Linked DNA regions of Homo sapiens: region 2 is linked to region 1. The links come from fine-mapping of genetic effects on gene expression. Tissue or cell type: nasal epithelium. Region 1 holds a variant in brackets; the other region holds the start of a gene. All regions are shown on one strand. Distances are between the middles of the regions.

What was found. PIP is the estimated chance that this variant, and not a neighbour inherited with it, causes the effect.
Region 2: MTFR1L starts here. The variant in region 1 is fine-mapped to the expression of MTFR1L in nasal epithelium (TOPMed, PIP 0.94).

What each region holds. Positions count from the first base shown.
Region 1 is chr1:25,849,560-25,860,245 of GRCh38, reverse strand. It overlaps AUNIP (aurora kinase A and ninein interacting protein), which reads left to right and starts at 789. Exons shown (of 3, transcript NM_024037.3): 1 at 789-966. The coding sequence starts at 889. RefSeq lists silencers at 1-31, 632-891 and enhancers at 1-508, 382-611, 509-1,134. The variant G/A (reference allele first, on the strand shown) is at 6,305.
Region 2 is chr1:25,816,120-25,825,462 of GRCh38, reverse strand. It overlaps MTFR1L (mitochondrial fission regulator 1 like), which reads right to left and starts at 5,509. Exons shown (of 7, transcript NM_001099625.2): 1 at 5,434-5,509; 2 at 2,335-2,444; 3 at 1,715-1,819. The coding sequence starts at 2,358. SELENON (selenoprotein N) reads right to left here. Exons shown (of 12, transcript NM_206926.2): 12 at 7,242-9,343. LOC646471 (a long non-coding RNA gene) reads left to right here and starts at 1,857. Exons shown (of 1, transcript NR_024498.1): 1 at 1,857-5,509. RefSeq lists enhancers at 4,714-4,803, 5,184-5,323, 6,966-7,466 and silencers at 4,914-5,083, 5,534-5,723.

The DNA of each region.
Region 1 (10,686 bases):
GGGGCTGCAGTGAGCCGAGATAGCGCCACTGCACTCCAGCCTGGGCGACAGTGAGACTCCGTCTCAAAAAAAAATTTTTTTTACATATACAATATGTAAACATTACGTATAATGTACATATATTCCATCTATGGAGATTGTGGTTAGGGACGGAAGGATGGGTGGGGGTGCCAACATTTTTGCATTTCCAAGGGGTTTTCTGAATTCACAAAGTACTTTCACAACCTCATTTGATCCTCTTTAAAATCCAAGGCACAGTAAACGGTGAAAGCAGGACTGAAATCTAGTTCCTGACCCCAAATTTTAACCTCTTCAAAATCCTCTCCCATGTGGCTTCGTAGTTACGCTTACATTAAAAAAAAAAAATTACCAAAGTTGTTCGCACACTCGAGTGTCTGGTAACCACTTAGGTCGAGGACCCCTGGTCTGGAGTCGACGGGCCTGATCTCGGCTCAGCCACTTCCTTCTGGGGGTGATCGCGAAGATTCAGCGATGACACGAACAAATTCCTAAGCCCGGGAAATACTGTAAGAAATTTTCAATACAGCAAAAAGAAAATGTACATTTCTGAGGCTGTCGAGAACCGTTCACACAGCAGCTTCCGAATCCGCTCTTGAAAGAGCGGATCAGAAAGAACACGCACTCCTCCGCGCAGGGAAATATGCCGCACGCACTCAAGGGACCGGCCGCGAAAGTTAGTGCGTGGGCGGGGCACAGCGAAGGGGGCCAGGGCCTTGCCGGGGCGGGGCTGGCGCCCGGGGCGGTCGCGACGTAGCCCCGCCCCCAGCGTTGGCGCGAGATCCGAACGTCGGCGGCCGCGGTTCTGGCGTTCCCTGAGGCGCCGGGAGCCTGCGCCGGCGTCCTGCCGGCTTCGTCTCCTCAGCGGCCATGAGGCGGACAGGCCCCGAGGAGGAGGCCTGCGGCGTGTGGCTGGACGCGGCGGCGCTGAAGAGGCGGAAAGTGCAGGTGGGACGCTGGGGGATGAGAGGGCGTTGGGAACCAGGTAGGGCCTGGAGGCGTAAGACGGGAGGAGTTTGGGGGACACCTGGAGATGATGAAAGCGAAGTCGGGGACAGAGAAGGGAACAGCGTTGGGGATTCACAGGCGAGAGGGATTGTGGTCTGAAGAAGGTTGAAAAACGGGGCTTGGGGAGGATGGGAGGGACGGAAGGAAAGAGCGTGCTGTTGGGGGGTCTGGAGGAGCGGTGCGCAGGGAGGGGCGGCGAAGGTTCAGGTGTGGGAGAGGCGGAGGGAAAGTTCGCTCGGAGCAGTTGAACTGACCAGGCTCCCTAGGAGGCCACAGTCCCTGCGAGACGTCCTAGTAGAGGCTGGAGCATTGGGAGATGGATGCGAATGCAAATTGGGGAAATTCTCACCCCGGGGTCTGTTTCCACCCAATTTGCCAAGTTGCAGGCCAACTACCTGCCCAGAACCGGTAACTTTGAGGGGAAAAGTAGAAGCTATGGGAAGGGGAGCTGGCCTCCTATGTACTGAGCAGTCACTGGGTGCCGGATACTGCATTAGATACTGAATATGCGTTATATGTGTCGTCATTCTTGCTGGGAATGAGGAAACTGAGGTTCAGTAACTAACCTAGGCCCGCCTAACTAGAAGGAGCTGGAAATCACATTCAGGTCTGTCACCTAGGCAAGATGCTCTTCAGTCACTGTAAAGAAACAAAAGTGCGACATAATAATCATTCATGTTTATTGAGCATTTTATGCTGGTGCTAAGTGTTTTAGGTATGTTACCTTGTTTGGTACAATTCTATATGGTAGATAGTGTAATGATACCCATTTTACATACGGAAAACAGGCTCAAAACAGACACTAGGGGCAAGATTCTTGCTCTCAGGTTGCTCACAGTCTTATAGGGAAGAAAAGAGGTGTATAAATAATAACAACAATACCTAACCTTTATTGAGTGCTTTCTATGTGTCAGGCATTTTGCCGAGACTTTATACACTTTATCAATGGCAGGTACTCACCAAAATTCAGTAAAGTAGATTTTGTCATTATCCTGGTTTTATAGATAAGAAATTTGATCATTTTATTATTATTATTTATTATTATTATTTTTTGAGATGGAGTCTTGCTCTGTCGCCCAGGCTGGAGTGCAGTGACACAATCTCAGTTCCCTGCAAGCCCCACCTCCGGGGTTCACGCCATTCTCCTGCCTCAGCCTCCTGAGTAGCTGGGACTACAGGCGGCCACCACCACGCCCGGCTAATTTTTTGTATTTTTAGTAGAGACAGGTTTTCACCGTGTTAGCCAGGATGGTCTCGCTCTCCTGACCTCGTGATCTGCCCGCCTCAGCCTCCCAGAGTGCTGGGATTACAGGCGTGAGCCACTGCGCCCGGCATATTATTATTATTGTTATTTTTGAGATGGAGTTTCACTCTTGTTGCTCGTGCTGGAGTGCAGTGGCGCGATCTAAGCTCACTGCAACCTCTGCCTCCCGGGTTCAAGCGATTCTTCCGCCTCAGCCTCCCGAGTAGCTGGGACTACAGGCGCCCGCCACTACGCTCGGCTGATTTTTGTATTTTTAGTAGAGACAGGGTTTCACTATGTTGGCCAGGCTGGTCTTGAACTCCTGACCTCAAGTGATCCGCCCGTCTCGGCCTCCCAAAGTGCTGAGATTACAGGCTTGAGCTACCGTGCCTGGCCGATTGTTTTATTTTTTCAAAAATTATCAAAATGGCCGGGTGCGGTGGCTCACGCCTGTAATCCTAGTACTTTGGGAGGCCGAGGCGGGCGGATCACCTGAGGTCAGGAGTTCGAGACCGGCCTGGCCAACATGGTGAAACCCCGTCTCTCCTATAAAAAATACAAAAATTTGCTGGGCGTGGTGGCAGGTACCTGTAATCCCAGCTACTCGGGAGGCTGAGACAGGAGAATTGCTTGAACCCAGGAGGTGGAGGTTGCAGTGAGCCGAGATCGTGCCACTGCACTCCAGCCTGGGTGACAGAAGACTCAGTCTCAAAAAAAAAAAAAAAAAAATCAAAATGTGCAATAGCTATTTATTACTCCTTGAATTAGGAATAAGCCATTTGTACCCTTTGAATACATTCTTGAATGACATGGGATGCGTGGGAAACTTGTATACCACTTTGATTTGTTAGTTAATTTTGGAGACAGGCCTCAGTCCGTCACCCAGGCTAGAGTGCGGTGGCGTAATCACGACTACCTACAGCCTCAACGCCCCCGGGCTCCAGGTGATCCTCTTGCCTCATCCTCCCGAGTAGCTGGGACTACAGGCATAGTGCCACAAAGCCCAGCTCATTTTTTGTATTTTTTTTTTTTGTAGAGACGGGGTTTCGCTGTGTTACCTAGGCTGGTCTTGAACTCCTGAGCTCAAGTGATCTGCCCACCGTGGCTTCTCAAAGTGCTGGGATTACAGGTGTGAGCCACTGCACCCAGCCACCAGTTTAATTTAGAAAGAGAACAGAAATAGAATTAGGAAGAGTTCAGGAGAGCGAGAAAGGGAATATTCCACAGGGAAGAGGAGAGCCAATATTTGTCTCTCTGTCTATAATTCTGTTTTGTTGTTGTTGTTGTTGTTGTTGTTTTCCGAAATGGAGTCTTGCTCTTGTTGCCCGGGCTGGAGTGCAGTGGTGCGATCTCAGCTCACTGCAACCTCCACCTCCTGGGTTCAAGCAGTTCCCCTGCCTCAGTCTCCAGAGTAGCTGGGATTACAGGCATGCACCACCTTGCCCAGGTGAATTTGTATTTTTAGTAGAGACGGGGTTTCTCCATGTTGGTTAGGCTGGTCTTGAACTCCCAACCTGAGGTGATCCACCTGCCTCGGCCTCCTGGGATTACAGGCGTGAGCCACTACGCCCAGCCTAATCTTGTTTTATTGTTTGTTTTGTTTTTTTTTTTTTGAGATGGAGTCTTGCTCTGTCACCCAGGCTGGAGTGTAGTGGCATGATCTCGGGTCACTGCAGCCTCTGCCTCCCAGATTCAAGCGATTCTCTGCCTCAGCCTCATGAGTAGCTGGGATTACAGGCGTGTGCCACCATACCTGGCTAATTTTTGTATTTTTAGTAGAGACAGGGTTTCACCATGTTGACCAGGCTGGTCTCGAACTCCTGGCCTCAAGTGATCCACCTGCCTCAGCCTCCCAAAGTGCTGGGATTACAGGCATGAGCCACCGTGCCTGGTCTGTCTATAATTCTTATACCCCCAAATCCTGCCTTTTTCCCTGGCAATGTTATGGTGAAAACATTTGTCTTGTTGATGTAGTACATGACAGTTATAGAATCCTCCAGGATCTCTAGGCCCTTAACTTATTCTGATTTCTAGAGGCCTGGACCTTATGACCATACTCACTAACACCATTTCTCCTTCTTGTTACTTGATTCCCAAAGATACTTGTTAAAATCTTTGGTTCCTGACTATTAACTATTACTCTGACTTCCAACCCAGAGAAGAGTACTAAAGATTCCCTTTCACAAGGTGCCTCTTCCTAGAGTGGCTATCAAATAGGCATACAGTCCTTTGAGTTTTAATGTCAGGGATGGATGGGCAGTACCTAGTGTCTGTGTTTTTGAAAACATGCCTCTTCCCCCTTGATCTCTAAACAGAATGGTTTGCTATTTTTGAGAGAATGAGTAGTTTGTAGTCTGGCCAGTAGACAATAGTAGTCTATGTTTGGAGTGAGTTTGCTTCTCTCCTAATTTGAACTACCCATTTGGCCTCGTTACTTAGGCCTTGTATGTATACTAGATTTGCTTTCATTTTGTTTTTATATTATGAAAATAATATATGTTTGTTTAAAAAAAATTAAACAGGACTGTGGCTCGTGCCTGTAATCTCAGCACTTTGGGAAGCTCAGCACTTTGGGAAGCCAGGAATTTGGGACCAGCCTGGGCAATATAATGAGACCCCAACTCCACAAAAAATAAAAAAAGTTTATCATGGGCGGAGGAGTGTGGCAGTTTTAATGTACGTCCACAAATTCTTCAGTACTTTTCCTTCTAAAAGAACTTAATTCCCCTTTCCTTGAGCACAGACAGTATTTAGTGACTCCAATGAATAGAATGTGGTAGGTTATAGTGTTAGAATTCTGAGTCTAAGCCTGGCCAACATGGTGAAACCCCATCTCTACTGAAAATACTAAAATTAGCCAGGCTTGGTGACGGGTGCCTATAATCCCAGCTACTCAGGAGGCTGAGGCAGGAGAATTGCTTGAAGCCAGAAGGTGGAGGTTGCAGTGAGCCAAGGTTGCGCCACTGCACTCCAGACTGGGTGATAGAGTGAGACCCCATCTCAAAAAAAAAAAAAAAAAAAAAGAAAGAATTCTGAATCTAGGTCATAAATGACATTGCAGCTTTAGCTTCATTGTCTCTTTGGGAGAAGCCAGCTGTCATGTTGTGAGGACACTCAAGCAGCTCTGTGGAGAGGTTCATGCAGTGAGGAGCTGAGGCCTTTTGCCAACAGTTGTGTGAGTGAGGGAGTCATCTTGAAATTGGATACCGCACCTCTAGTTGATATTTTGAATGCAACCTCACTAGACTGTGAGACAGACCCACCCATCTAGGCTTAACCCAAATTCTTCATGCACAGAAGTTGTGAGATAATAAATGCCTGGCTGGATTTCAGACTGGTGACCCACTTATACCTCTTATCTCCCCCTTTTTGAACATAATGTCTGTAACAGTTATGCCCGTTCCAAATTGTATGTTAGATGTATGAGGGAAGATAATTTGTCTTTAGTTCACAGGCCTGCAGATCTAAAGGAACTGTATTTAAACTACATTTTTGGACTTCACATGTACCTGTTTTAGATGCTAGTATCCTTGATATTAAGCTAATGCTATAAAGAGATGAGATTTTTGTAGAGTTTTGGGAGGGAGGGAGTATATTTTGCATATGGGAAGAATGTAAGTAATTTGGGCCAGAAGGTGGACTGTGATGGTTTCAAAATATGTCCACACTCTTCCCTTCAAGAGGTGGAGCTTCATTCTCCTGCCTTTATGTTTGGATTGGACTTGGTAACTTGCTATTTATTTATTTATTTGTTTGTTTATTTTTTTGAGATGGAGTCTTACTCTGTTGCCTAGACTGGAGTGCAGTGGCATGATCTTGGCTCACTGCAACCTCCACCTGCTGGGTTGAAGCAGTTCTCCTGCCTCACCTTATGAGTAACTGGGATTACAGGCGTGCACCACTATGCCCGGCTAATTTTTGTATTTTTAGTACAGACGGGGTTTTACCATGTTGGCTAGACTGGTCTCAAACTCCTGACCTCAGGTGATCTACCTGCCTTGGCCTCCCAAAGGGATTACAGGCGTGAGCCACTGC[G/A]CCGGGCCGTAACTTGCTTCTAATGAATAGAATATTGCGGGAACTGATGGTGTGTGACTTTTTCAGATTGGGTCATAAATGGCTTTGTGACCTCTTTTGATTGCTCACTCTGGGAAAAGCTAGCTTCCATGTTGCTACATGAAGCCTGTTAACAGCCATGTTAGTGAGCTATCTTGGAAGTGGATCCTTTCAGCCCCAGTTAAGGCTTCAGATGATTGTAGCCTGAGCCAACATCATGAATGCAACCTCATGAGAGACCCTGAGCCAGAACCACCAAGCTAACCACCCTGAGAAGCTGTGTGAGATTAATGTTTTTTGTTTTGTTTTTGTTTGTTTGTTTGTTTTTTGAGACAGAGTTGCTCTGTCACACAGGCTGGGGTGCAGTGGCACGATCTCAGCTCGCTGCAAACTTTGACTCATGGGTTCAGACGATTCTCCTGCCTCACCCTCCTTAGTAGCTGGAATTACAGGCGCCCACCACCACACCTGGCTAATTTTGGTATTTTTAGTAGAGATGAGATTTCACCATGTTGGTCAGGCTGTTCTCAAACTCCTGACCTCAGGTGATCCACCTGCCTCCGCCACCCAAAGTGCTGGGATTACAGGCATGAGCCACCACGCCGGCCGAATGTTTATTGTTTTAAGCTTCTAAGTTTTGTGGTAATTCGTTACAAAGCAATACAACACTAATACAGCTAATATTAAGAAAGATTTTGTGAACAATATTTGGAAACTTTAATACCCACTTTCAATCATGGATATCAACAAGGAAAAAAGATTTGAACAATACTATAAACCAGGTAGACCTAACAGACAAAAATATAGAACAGTCTACCCAACAACAGCAGAATACATAGTCTTCTCCATGACACATGGAACATTCTCCACAAATACTAGGTCACAAAACAAATCTCAATAAATTTAGAAAGATGGAAATCATACAAAGTATATTCTCCATAATGGAATGAAAGTAGAAATCAGTAACAGAAGAAAAAGTAGAAAATCCACAAATAGGTTGAAATTAAACAGCACATTTCTAAATAACCAAGAGTCAAAGAAGAAATCAAAAGGAAAATTATAATAGAAAGTACTTTGAGATAAATGAAAACAAAAATATAATGCACCAAGATTTATGGGATGCAACTAACACTATGCTTAGAGGGATATGTATAGCTGTAAATGCTTTTATTAAAAAGAATCTCGGCCAGGCGCAGTGGCTCACACCTGTAATCCCAACAGTTTGGGAGGCTGAGGTGGGTGGATCACCCGAGGTCAGGAGTTTAAGACCAACCTGGCCAACACGGCGAAACCCTGTCTCTACTAAAAATACCAAAATTAGCTGTGCGTGGTGGCAGGCGCCTGTAATCCCAGCTACTCAGGAGGCTGAGGCAGGAGAACTGCTTGAACCCAGGAGGCGGAGGTTGCAGTGAACTCCAGCCTGGGCAACAAGAGTGAAACTCCTGTCTCAAAAAAAAAAACAACAAAAAAAAAAACCTTAAATAATCTAATCTTCTACCTTAAGAAACTAGAAAAAGAAGAGCAATCTAAACCCATAGTGACCAGAAGGAAGGAAATAATACAATTTAGAGTGAAAATAAATAGTAAAGAAAAACAATCAACATCAAAAGTTGGTTCTTTGCAAAGATCAACAAACTCAACACACCTTTAGCTAGACTGATCAAGAATAAAAGAGAGCACAGTGGCTCACACCTATAATCCCAGCATTTTAGGAGGCTGAGGTGGGAGGATCCCCTGAACCCAGGAGTTCAAGACCAGCCTGGGCAACATAGGGAGACCCTATCTCTACCAAAAAATACAAAAATTAGCCTGATGTGGTGGTACATGCCTGTAGTTCCAGCTACTCAGGAGGCTGAGGTGTAAGGATCACTGAACCCAGGGAGGTTGAGGCTGCACTGAGCGGTGATTGAGCCACTGCACTCCAGCCTGGGTAAGAGAGTGACACCCTGTCTCAATCAGTCAGTCAGCAAGAGGCCAGGTGAGGTGGCTGAAAAAACCCTATCTCTACTAAAAATACAGAAATTAGCCAGTTATGTTGGTGTGTGCCTGTAGTCCCAGCTACTCGGGAGGCTGAGGCAGGAGAATCACTTGAACCCGGGAGACAGGTTGCAGTGAGCCGAGATTGTGCCACTGCATTCCAGCCTGGGCGACAGAGTGAGACTGTCTAAAAAAGAAAATAAAGAGATAAAAATAATTAGAATACTATAAACAACTGTATGCTAACACATTTAGATAACTTAGATGAAATGGACAAATTCCTAGGAAGTCACAGACTACCAAACTTGCCTCAAGAAGAAATAGATAAAAATCAACTGACTGTAAATGTAAGGGTTTACTTCTGGACTTTCAGTTCAATTCCTTTGGTCTATAGACCTATAACGAAGAGATTGAATTAGTAATTTTAAAACTTCCTGCAAAGAAAAGTCCAGGTCCAGATAGTTTCTCTGGTGAATTCTACCAAACATTTAAAGAATTATACCAATCCTTCAGACTCTCTCAAAAAAATAGAATAGAAGAGGAGGGAACACTTTCCAACTCATTTTGAGGCCAGTATTACTCTGATACTAAAACTAGACCAAGATATCACAAGAAAAGGAAATTATGGTCTGGTATCCTTTATGAATACAGATACAAAAATACTCAACAAAATACAAGCAAAACAAATTTAGCAACACATAAAAAGGATTATAAATCATGACCAAGAGGAATTTATCTTAGGAATGCAAGGTTGGTTTAAATTTGAAAACCAATTAATATACCATACTAATAGCATAAAAGACAAAAACCACATAATCATGTCAATAGACACAGAAAAAGCATTTTGACTGACATCATTTTGTGATTAAAACACTCAACAGACCAGGAATAAAAGGGAATTTTCTCAGCCTCACAAAGGGCATCTATGAAAACCCAGTTAACATCATACTTAATGGAAGAAGACTGAATGTTTCCACTCCTAAATCAGCAACAAGACAAAGATCTTGCCACTCTGTTTACCATTGCACTAGAGATTTTATGCAGGGAAATTTAGCAAGAAAAAGAAATAAAAGATACCCAGATTAAAAAGGAAGAAGTAAAATTATCTGTTTGCAGAAAATATGATCTTATGTGTAGAAAATCCTAAGGAATCCACTTAAAAAAATTAGAAAAAATGAGTTCAGCAGTGTGACAGGATACAAAAATCAATTGTACTTCCGTATGGTAGGATTTTATCCAAAAAATGAAACTAAGGAAATAATTTCATTTACAATAGAATCAAATAGAATAAAATACTTAGGCATAAATTTAACAAAACAGTGCAAGACATACACTGGAAACTATAAAACTCATTGAAAGAAATTAAAAATGTAAATAATGGAAAGACATTACATGTTCATTGATCAGAAGACTTAAGATAGGAATATGCCCCAATTGATCTACAGAATCAGTGCAGTCCTTATCAACATCTCAGTTGTCCTTTTTGCAGATACTGACAGTCTGATCCAGAAATTCATGACATCCGAGGGATCTAGAAAAGCCAAAACAAGCTTGAAGAGTAACAAAGTTGGAGGAATCACATGTACTGATTTCAAAATTACTATACAGTTACAGTACTTAAGATGGTTTGATACTGTCATAAAGGTAGACACATTATAGATCAAAGGAATTGAAAGTCCAGAAGTAAACCCTTGTATTTATGGTCAGTTGTTTTGTTGTTGTTGTTGTTGTTGTTTTTAGAATCAGGGTCTCAATTTGTTACCCAGACTGGAGTGCTATGATCACACCCAGAGTGCTGATGTGATCATAGCTTTATTGAGATATGATTCATATACCATAAAATTTGCCCATTTAAGTATGTACCCCCGAGAGATAGGAAAACGTATGTCTGCACAAAAACTTGCACACAAATGTTCTTAGCAGCGTTTCTCATAATAGCCAAAAAGTGGAAACAATCCAAGTAGTCATCAACTGATGAACATCAACTGGTAAACAAAATGGTATATCTAGGGTTGAGTGCAGTGGCTCACGCCTGTAATCCCAGCACTTTGGGAGGCTGAGATGGGGCAGATCACTTGAGGTCAGGAGTTCAAGACCAGCCTGGCCAATATGATGAAACCCCGTCTCTACTAAAAAAATACAAAACTTAGCCAGGCATGGTGGCAGGCACCTGTAATTCCAGCTGCTCAGGAGACTGAGGCAGAAGAATTGCTTGAACCCAGGAGGCAGAGGTTGCAGTGAGCCAAGATTGCGTAGCTGCACTCCAGCCTAGGTGACAGAATAAGACCCTGTCTCAAACAAACAAACAAAATAACACAAAATGGTATATCTATATAATGGAATATTATTTGGCAATAAAAAAGAGTGAAGTATTGATACATGCTACA
Region 2 (9,343 bases), 34 kb after region 1:
ATTACAACAAAGTAAAAAACATCCATCTAGAAAAAGAGGACTACACTAAGACATTAATAGTTATTGTATTATTACTATGTAATTATAGGTAATTTATTTTCCTTTTACTTTTCATAATTTTAATATTTTCATATGCTTAAATTTTCAAAATAAATTGGTAAGAGTCCCTTAAATAATATTTAAGGTAATTTAATAATAATAATAAATGCATATTTACACACAAGTAAGATTCAACTGTTTCTGCTACAAATTATTTGGTATGGTAGATGGATCCAGGATTGATCGCTCCTGCATTTAGATAGGAAACCTGGGACTCACAGGAGTTAAGTGATACTCCAAGGTCACACAGAGAAGAACTTCCAGTGACCCAGGAACTAGTGCTAAAATAGGGCATTTGGGGGAAGCCTCCATTTGTTTTCCTGATTAGCCCTGAATGCTCCTTTGCTCTTGGCAATTAAATGAGTAAACAAATATAAAGTACAGCACAGTGCCTGACACATAGTATGTGCTCAGTAAATGTTATCTAGTATTACCAATACTGCTCACATACATTCCTGCTCTGTGAGAGCCTGTGCCCTTGATTGTCTCTGCCCAGCATCTGGCCAAAGAACTGAAGAGGGTATAGCCAAGTGTGGGGACGGCCTCTATGCAGTGAGCCACACTCCCTAGCTGTCTCCCTTTTTTTTTTCTGATGCTTCTGAGGCAAGTTAGGACCAGTTCCTGCCCAGGATCTTTAGACAATTCTGGATAGCTGGCAATCTGAATACTGGGACAGCTTTTCCTGCCCCCTACCCCTGCGACACTTCCAACTCCATTCCTGACCCTAATACCAACCCTGACACCTCTTCTAATTCCAGATCCAGTTCCTACAGACTCTGCTTCTTAGCATCTTTTATACAGATTTGGCTCCTTCATTTCTGTTTCTACCTGGGCCCACATCCTTTCATGCACATATTTCTATCTCCTCTGTGTGGGTAGAAAGCACAAGTATTTCTTTTGTATCCCAGCTCTCCAAATGCACACATCTGAACCATATAGTTTGGGGCTGGTGCTTAACCATTTAGTTCCTAGAGGGAGGCAGCTGGGACTAATAAATGCTACTTAGCTTTCTACCACAGAAGGGGTCTCAAGAGACCTGGGCCAGGTAGGAATCTCTGCTGCTGAGTGGGTGCTAAAGGATCCCTAGACACAGAGGTAAGACCAAAGCACCCCAGTAAAGGATGCCCAGATTGGCCAAAAAGAGAAGGCTGAGGAATTATGGCCTCAGAGAAACACTAAAAATAGTGGAGCTGGGCATGGTGGCTTGTGCCTGTAATCCCAGCTACATAGGAGGCTGAGGCAGGAGGACTGCTTGAGCCCAGGAGTTTAAGACCTAGCCTGGGCAACATAGGGAGACCTCATCTCAAAAAATAATAAAATAAAAATACTGGCTACATGGTCAATTCTTAGGGCTGGTGAAGAAAAGCAGAGTTCAACTCAAAAATCACAATAGTCAGTGTCCCATGTGGGGGACCTGTCAGGTTCCTTGTGGTCACAGGTTTGTATGCACTCAGGAGGACACAGTGACCAGGATATCTTATAAGCATTTAACAAATATTTCATAACAGAATGAAAAGTGACCAGGAAACAACCTACTTGGGCAGTACCAAGGGGTTTGGGGCACAGAAGCAGCACTGTCTGAGCCTCTACTCTCCTGCCCTTCCAACATACTCACCTCAAAGGACGCCCGGGCACACGGCTTCAAGGGTAGGTTGGTCCCAATTCTTCTTACTACACTTCGAGCAGCCCCATGTGGCTTGTTTTGCCAGATTGGGATGGTCTGGAGCAAAGAGACGGAGACAGCTACAACCCCAGAGAATGAATCCAACTACTGTCCTTGTCCTCTCCTCTCTAGGTTTGTGGAGACTGAATTCCACAAACCTAGGGACAGGGCACTCTCTAGGGGCAAGTCAACTCTCAATTATAGTGAGGGCAGGTTCCCCAGTTGCCAGCCTACACCCTGGCCAGCCACCCAAGGGAATACCTGCTGCTGCTAAGGCAGTCAATGTTGGGAGGGTCAGGGAAGGGGAGAGGAAGTAGCTGAGTGTAGAGATTATCCAGGCTTTCCTTCCCGTCCTCTGTACAGAAAGGCAGACATACACTGACTCCTGAAGTGCCCCAGGATCATAGTTGGTTCTTCTTAGGGGGAGGGAGTGAAACGGTGGCCTTGCTCCAATTCCAGGCCTCTGGAGAAAGGAGTGCTCAACTGGAGAGTCTCAGAACCTTTTACAGTACTTCAGCAGGCCCAGCACCCAACCTTCCCCACCATACCCCTGCCCTGGGAATGCCCCTTACCACAGTGGCTTCCATTCCTGACATTTGAACCAGCTCCTGCACTTGAAGGACAAGGCAGCCACTGGGCAGCTCCGGGAGGCGGGAGGCGTGACTCCTTCATATCAGGCCATCTGGAGGAGCACCAGATTTCCCTCTTGTGAAACAACCCCCCACAGTGGGGATTTAATGGTCACCACACAAGCCCCAAAAAACCAGGCCCTGCAGAGCCATGACTTCACAGGGGAGAAAACCAGCCCAAGAGGCTGCCCTCACCCAACACTTAGCTCTAAGTCCAGACTCTTAAAGGTTCTGTTAAAGATCTGCGGCCAGGCGCAGTGGCTCACATCTGTAATCCCAGCACTTTGGGAGGCCGAGGTGGGCGGATCACGAGGTCAGGAGAGCGAGACCATCCTGGCTAACACAGTGAAGCCCTGTCTCTACTAAAAATACAAAAAATTAGCCAGGTGTGGTGGCGGGCACCTGTAGTACCAGCTACTTGGGAGGCTGAGGCAGGAGAATGGCGTGAACCCAGGAGGCAGAGCTTGCAGTGAGCCGAGATCACGCCACTGCACTCCAACCTGGGTGACAGAGCGAGACTCCGTCTCAAAAAAAAAAAAAAAAAAAAAAGATTTGCCTAGTGAGCTTGGCCAACCCAAGAGCCTTCCTGGGCTCTCAGGTTTCTTGAGGCAAAACTTCTAAAGATGCAAATAGAATCCTTGGTAGCTACAAAGCTCATCTAGCCAAATTATAAGTACTATCCAAGCCCAGGATTCATTCTTGAAGATGAGATGTAAAAGCACTGCTGGGCCCTTGCAAAGGGAGAGATCAGAGAAAATAGGAGAACGAACACCAGCTCATGCCAATCTCAGTCTCATGAGCTACAGAGAAAAAGAGCCAAAAAAGTTTATCCTGGCTCAGCCACCTTCTGGCTTTGTAGCTACAGGCAAGTTATTTAACTTTTCTGAATGTTGGTTTTTCCATCTGGAAAAAGGAGACAGGAAAAGCTGCCACTGGAGGCTACCTTAAGGGTCAATGAGTGAAATGGGGTTGAGTGCTTAATGAACTGTTAAAACATGACACAGATGGGTGAGGTGACATCTGACTGCTCTTCACAGCAGTCCTTGCATGGTGAGCAGATGCAATCAGTGTGCTCGTTCATTCACTTGTTCATCAAACACCAACAGTACCCACTTGTGCCAGGCCTTGTGCTGGGCACCGTAGGGGCTATGGAAGGAGTAAGACACAGTCATGCTCTCAAGGAACTCGCTGTCCAGCAGAGTGATAGGACATGAATACATACTTCTAGCAAAGGCTGAGTAGCATTAGGCAGGTGGCCAGATGAGGTCAGAGCTCTGGCCCTAGTGCCCTGTAGTAAGTTGCGAGGGAGTAGGAAATGAAGACAAAACAGCAAGAGCACAGGTCCAGCACAAGAAGGTGAAGGACATGGAAAGAGGAGCAGAGCATGATAAAGCTACAAAAGTAGGGGGCAAGTCATGAGGTCCGGGTCACTGGGGAGCCCTGGACAGGCTCTGAATGGGAGATAGACTAGACTGACAAAGCAGCTCTTTCTGGAGACCTCCTGTGGAGGGTCCCCTCTTCTACCCTTGGGAGACGAGGTGTCATTCACTTCACGATACACATGGGGAAAGGAAGTTGGACAGGGGAAGGCACTTGTCTAAGGTCACTCAGTGGTCATGCCAGTGCAAAGCACCCAAAGCCTGGTCCAGGTCCTGCCACCTCCTGCGTGGGCTCCATCTTCTCGGCTCAGTTCAAGCCTTTATTATCAGAGTCCCTCTGTGTGCCAGGCTCTGTGCTGAATGTCCGTGTCGGCCACAAATTGCACTAACGGTGCTTACTGCCACTTCCTCTCCGACCTTACCTCCAAAGACCCAGCCGGGCCTAACCCTCACACACAGCCAGAGGAATCCTTCCCAAACACAGTTAATCACATCGCTCATCCGTTTAAAACTGGCTTACTAGAGCCAACACAGGATAAAATCCACAATCAGTCCCAAACCCATCTTTCTCTGCCGTCTCTAGACCACATTCACTGAGCACCAAGGCCTGCACGCTTCGCAGCCAGCCCTCCTGCTCTCCCCCTTGCCCTCCAGCCACACTGGCCCTCAACCCCCAACACTGGGCCCACCTCTGAGCCCTGCATCAAACACCAGCACCCCCTTCGCCGAGCTCATTCTTCATCATTCCTCAGAGCTCAGCTTAAGCATCACCTTCCTTCCCTGCGACAGGGTCAGGTCCTTTCCTGTGCGCTCCGCAGCACCCTGCCTGTCCCTCGGAGTCCTCGCGAGAGGAACTAGATAACTGTGATCCCCGCGCACAGCACGGTGTCTGCCTAGGACACAGTGAGCGCTTCAACGCGCTGAACTAAACGAATGAAGGGGAACACCAACTCAGCTGTCACCCCCGCCCCCAAGTGTCACTGGCTAGAAGATCTTCCCCCGGTTCGCCGGCAGCACCGGTGGGTCTTGTCACCTCTGCGCCCCGCAGCCCTCCGGAGGCTGCAGTTGCTGTCTGCTGACAGGCGTCCCCTCAGGAGAACGGGAGCTCCTCCAGCGCAGGGCCCTGCTCAGCACCCCTGGTCCCGGGGGCCCCCACGGAGGCCGCCGCGCTCAGTGAAACTTTGCCGCGCGCAGCAGTGGCCGGAGACCCGCGCGGACCCTCTCCCCGCGGGGACCCGCCAGGGCGAGTCGCCCCTCCCCCGCGGCAGACGACCCGACCTGGGCCAAGGTCGGCCAAGTGCTCGCCGCCTGCCCAGCGGCCCTTGGACCCACAGGACCCGGACCCGAGTGCGCGGAAGCCTCCGAGCCGCGGCCAGGTCTCAGAATGCGCGGCGGGGCAGCCCGGCCCGTCAAGCAGCGAAGCCGAAACTAGAAGCCTGAGGTCTGGCTTGGTCACTGTTTGCTGGGGAACTCCGACGAGCAACTACCCTTCGGGGACTCAGTTTCCCCCGGGCCAAGTGAGACGGACAGCTGCGGCTCCCGCGAGAACTCGCGCGGGAACAGGAGCTGCGGGCTCCGCACAGCGCCCGGCACGTAGACCCAGTCTACTAACGGGCTGGAAGGTCGCGCTCCCGCCTCCGCGCCTCCCTAGAACCTTTCTCACCTCAAGCTCGGGCTCCCGGACTCTCTCACCTCACGGCCCCTCCTTCCACCTTGGGCCGCCCAGCCTCAACCGCCCTCACTTCCGCTGACCCGCCCCCCGGAAGCGATCCTCCGCAGCTGCGCACCGAGGCGCACCTCCGCGCACCCTCAGGAGGCGGGTCCAGCTCGGTGGCGAGGGGAGCGCGGCCCCCGAGTGGGCGAGGCGCTGGCGGCTGTAGGCTCCGATACCGCGGAGCACACTCCCCTCCATCGAGACCGTGCCCCCGCGGGGTCTGTGTCCCCGGGAGGAGTTGGCTGCGTTTGGAGATCCCTCGGCCTGGTATTCGTCGCGTCTCCCTGCTTGTTGCTCTCCACGTTTAGCCCCATCCGACTTCTGGAAGCCCAGGGGTGTGTCGCTCGACCCCTAAAATATGCTCCTACCCCTAGGGCAAACTTCAGAATCCTCACCCTGGCCCCCTTCCCAGTTCTTGGTTCCCAGGCAGGTCCCTTTGCAAAGCCTCTCTCCAGCAAGAATGCGCAGAATGGGCCTCTTTCTCCTCTTGACTCCTGCCCTCCAGCACTTTGCAGCTTTCTTCTATTTTAGCCTCTCTCTCTCTCTCTCACACACACACACACACACACACACACACACACACACACACACGGTATATTCAATGAGTTTGCTTATTAGATGGGTACTTGATGTACAAGACTCCAGAGGCTCTGTGGGAAGAGCCACATTCCTTCCAGGCTCACTAACCCACTCCCTCTTTGTGCTCCAGCCCTCACTGTCTTGGTCTGTGGCATGCAGTTCCTGGGTCACATTTCCTTCTCTGCCTTCAGCACAGCCTCGGGCTGTGCCTGGCTCCCAGGCTGGAGTTCCTTGGTTCCAAAGCCTGCAGTCCCCTCTGCCAGAGACAGAGCTGGTTTCATGGGTGAACAGCCCATGCAGTCACAACGGGCCGCATGCTCAGAATCCTGTACTTGGTTTAGTACTTTGCTGTTGCCGTCTTGAAATGATTTTCTAATAGGGGTTCTTGTGTTTTCATTTTGCACGGGGCTGTGCAAATTATGTGACTGGTCCTGGCTAGAGACCTCAGAGGTCGTCCACCCTGATCTCCACCATATCTCAAACGCTGAAGATTGACTTCCAGGTCTGGCCCTCTTCCCAGGATGGCACATTGTGTTTTAATCATTACCTTTCCCTCCTGTGCGATGGCGGATCATGCAAGTCCACGCTGGCTGTCTGTCCTGGGTGTAGATGCTGATTTGGTGTCCCACTCAGATCCCCTTGCAGGAAGAACGGAGCTCCCTACCTGGGAATTTCCTTCACCTCCCAAGCCAATGACTGATAAAAGGTCCAAAAGGCCAGTTCAGCTCTGCAGTGTGGTTTATGCCCCACAGCTCTTCCACTGTGGGTCAGGCCAAGGCTGGGCTGAGACTGTTCCTGCTCAGCATTTTTCCTTTCCCTCTTCTGCTTCCTTCCTTCTTTTACTGGTTTTTCTGGAAGTACACTCCCCCCCAGCCCCACCAAACAAACAAAACAAACAAACAAAAAAACACTTCATGCCTGTCTCAGGCTCTGCTTTTAAGACAATGATTTTAACTCCCAGATCTCTCTCAACAGAGAGCACCAGATTCTCAAAACAGTAAGTCCTACCACTTGTTCTATCGTAAAACTTATTTTGGGCAAGTCACTCAAGCCTTCGATAGGTAAGATAGTACCTGAAAGCATTCCAGCTCAACTCTGCCCCAAGAGGGAGCCACCCCATGGAAGGACGGAGCTGAGCAACATGCCACTCAAAGGAAAAGCACTTAGAACCACTCTAGTTAGTCTTCTCTAATTTTATTACAGGGCATGTTGGGGACAGGGGAGGGAAGTGTTAGAGGAGTGACAGGGCAGCCCGGGGCCCTCTCCCACCCTGAGCCTCGAGGCCTGGTGGGGGACATGAACTGCAGAGGCATCAGATAAGGCCTCAGAAAGCCCAGGCCATCATTTTCCATGGGACCAGGCTGGCTCAATGTGGAACTGGCCCTCCCAGAGCAGCAGGAGAAGGGCTCGCATGGGCTGCCCCCGTCACCTGTGCCTGACAGGATGGGGGGGGAGGCAGAGAGAGAGCATCAGACGCCCTCCCTCCCCATAAGGGGCATGGGGGATGGGGACACTTCCTCCCAGGACACAGGGAGCCTGGCTGAGCTGGCTGGCTCATGCCCCATCTGGTCTGGAGGTCAGAGGGGAGTGAGACACTCTGGTTTGAAAGGCCTTCCTTTCCACTTTGGGGAAAACAGGCAGGGAGAGAGGTGAGGGTGCCATGCCAAAAAACACCCCCAAATCCAGATGCAGACTTTGGAGCCACATGTGGGTTTGAATCTCAACTCTACCTGAGTGACCCTGGGCAAGTCACTTCACTTCCCTGAGACTCAAGTTTCATCAAGATGGGAACAATGAGCATCTGCCTCACAGGCTTGTCGTGAGGATTAAGTGAGAAGGTGCGTGTAATATTAGCGATGACTGGATGATACAAAATTAAGAACAAGGCTGGGCACGATTGCTCACGCCTGTAATCCCAGCACTTTGGGAGGCTGAGGCAGGTGGATCACCTGAGGTCAGAAGTTCCAGATCAGCCTGACCAATATGGTGAAACCCCATCTCTACTAAAAATACAAAAATTAGCCAGCCATGGTGGCATGCACCTGTAATCCCAGCTACTCGGGAGGCTGAGGCAAGAGAATTGCTTGAACCTGGGAGGTGGAGGTTGCAGTGAGCCAAGATCGAGCCATAGCACTCCAGCCTGGGTGACAGAGCAAGACTCCGTCTCAAAACAAAACAAAACAAAATTGAGAACAAGACTGGCTGGGGAAGGCTCAGTGGACACGCCCAAGGCAAGTGGGGTAACTCGGCACATAAAAGGCCCAGGAGTGGCTGCGGAGATGTCTGCCTTCCTTCTTCCTCTGCCAGGCTGAGTGAGCCCCGGGTGGGGTGAGGGGGTGGGGAGAGAACTGGGGGCTGGGGAGGGGGCAGCCTGACTTCAAGACCTTAATGAAAGAGAGTACAGGCATGCCTGTGGGCCTTTGTGGAGGATGGGACAGTGCTGGGGATCATGGATCCTCTGAGGACTGTTTTTAAAAAGCTGAAGAGGAGAAGGAAGAGAGGACTACTTCTTCCCATAGGTGCAGCTGCAAAGACATCAAGCTGGACCCATCGAGGATTTCGGATTCAGCCATCATGGGGCTGCTGCCGGGGAAGCCACTGCCCCTCCTTTCTCCTCAGCACTGGGGTTATAAAAAAATACCTACAAACCATGAGAAAGTTTGTGTAAAAACACTTTTCTGCACATATAAAAAGAGAGACTGGCCGTGGTCAGTGGCTCAGGACGTGGACCAAAGTCCCAAGAGTGGCCAAGGGGAGTCCGTGGTGCCCCAGAGGTAGAAGAGCTAGCCTGGGGCACCCCTGGTTGCCGGGACAGTGCCGGCTCTGGAGAAGGCTGTGGTGTTTGGCTGGGTTGTGCTTCTGTGGATGCAAGGTCTGAGGGGCAAGAGGGGCGGCAGGAGCGCTGGCTCCCGCAGTCCTGCAGAGACCCTGTGCTAAGGTAGGCGGTGGGAGTGCCTTGGCCCTGGGCCTCGGGAACCCCCTTAGTGAACCCCATTGCTAAAGGCAGAAACCCCTTCACAGTAAACTTCCCCAGATAGCTGGTCAGTGGCGTGGTCAGGGAAGCTGCAGGGGGTCCCGTCTGATTTCCACTCTGATGGAGGGTTCTGCCCAGAGGCTCCAGAAGACTGGCTCCTGTTGAGACTGACCCCAGCTGGGGACATCAGGCACAGGAGGGCAGTCCGGGGTATGGCCAGGAACGAAGGCTCTAGATAAACAGGGGAGCCGCCTTGGCAGCCTGGCCCCTCCTGGCTGGGGCTTCTTGATGTTTCCTGTGGGAAGG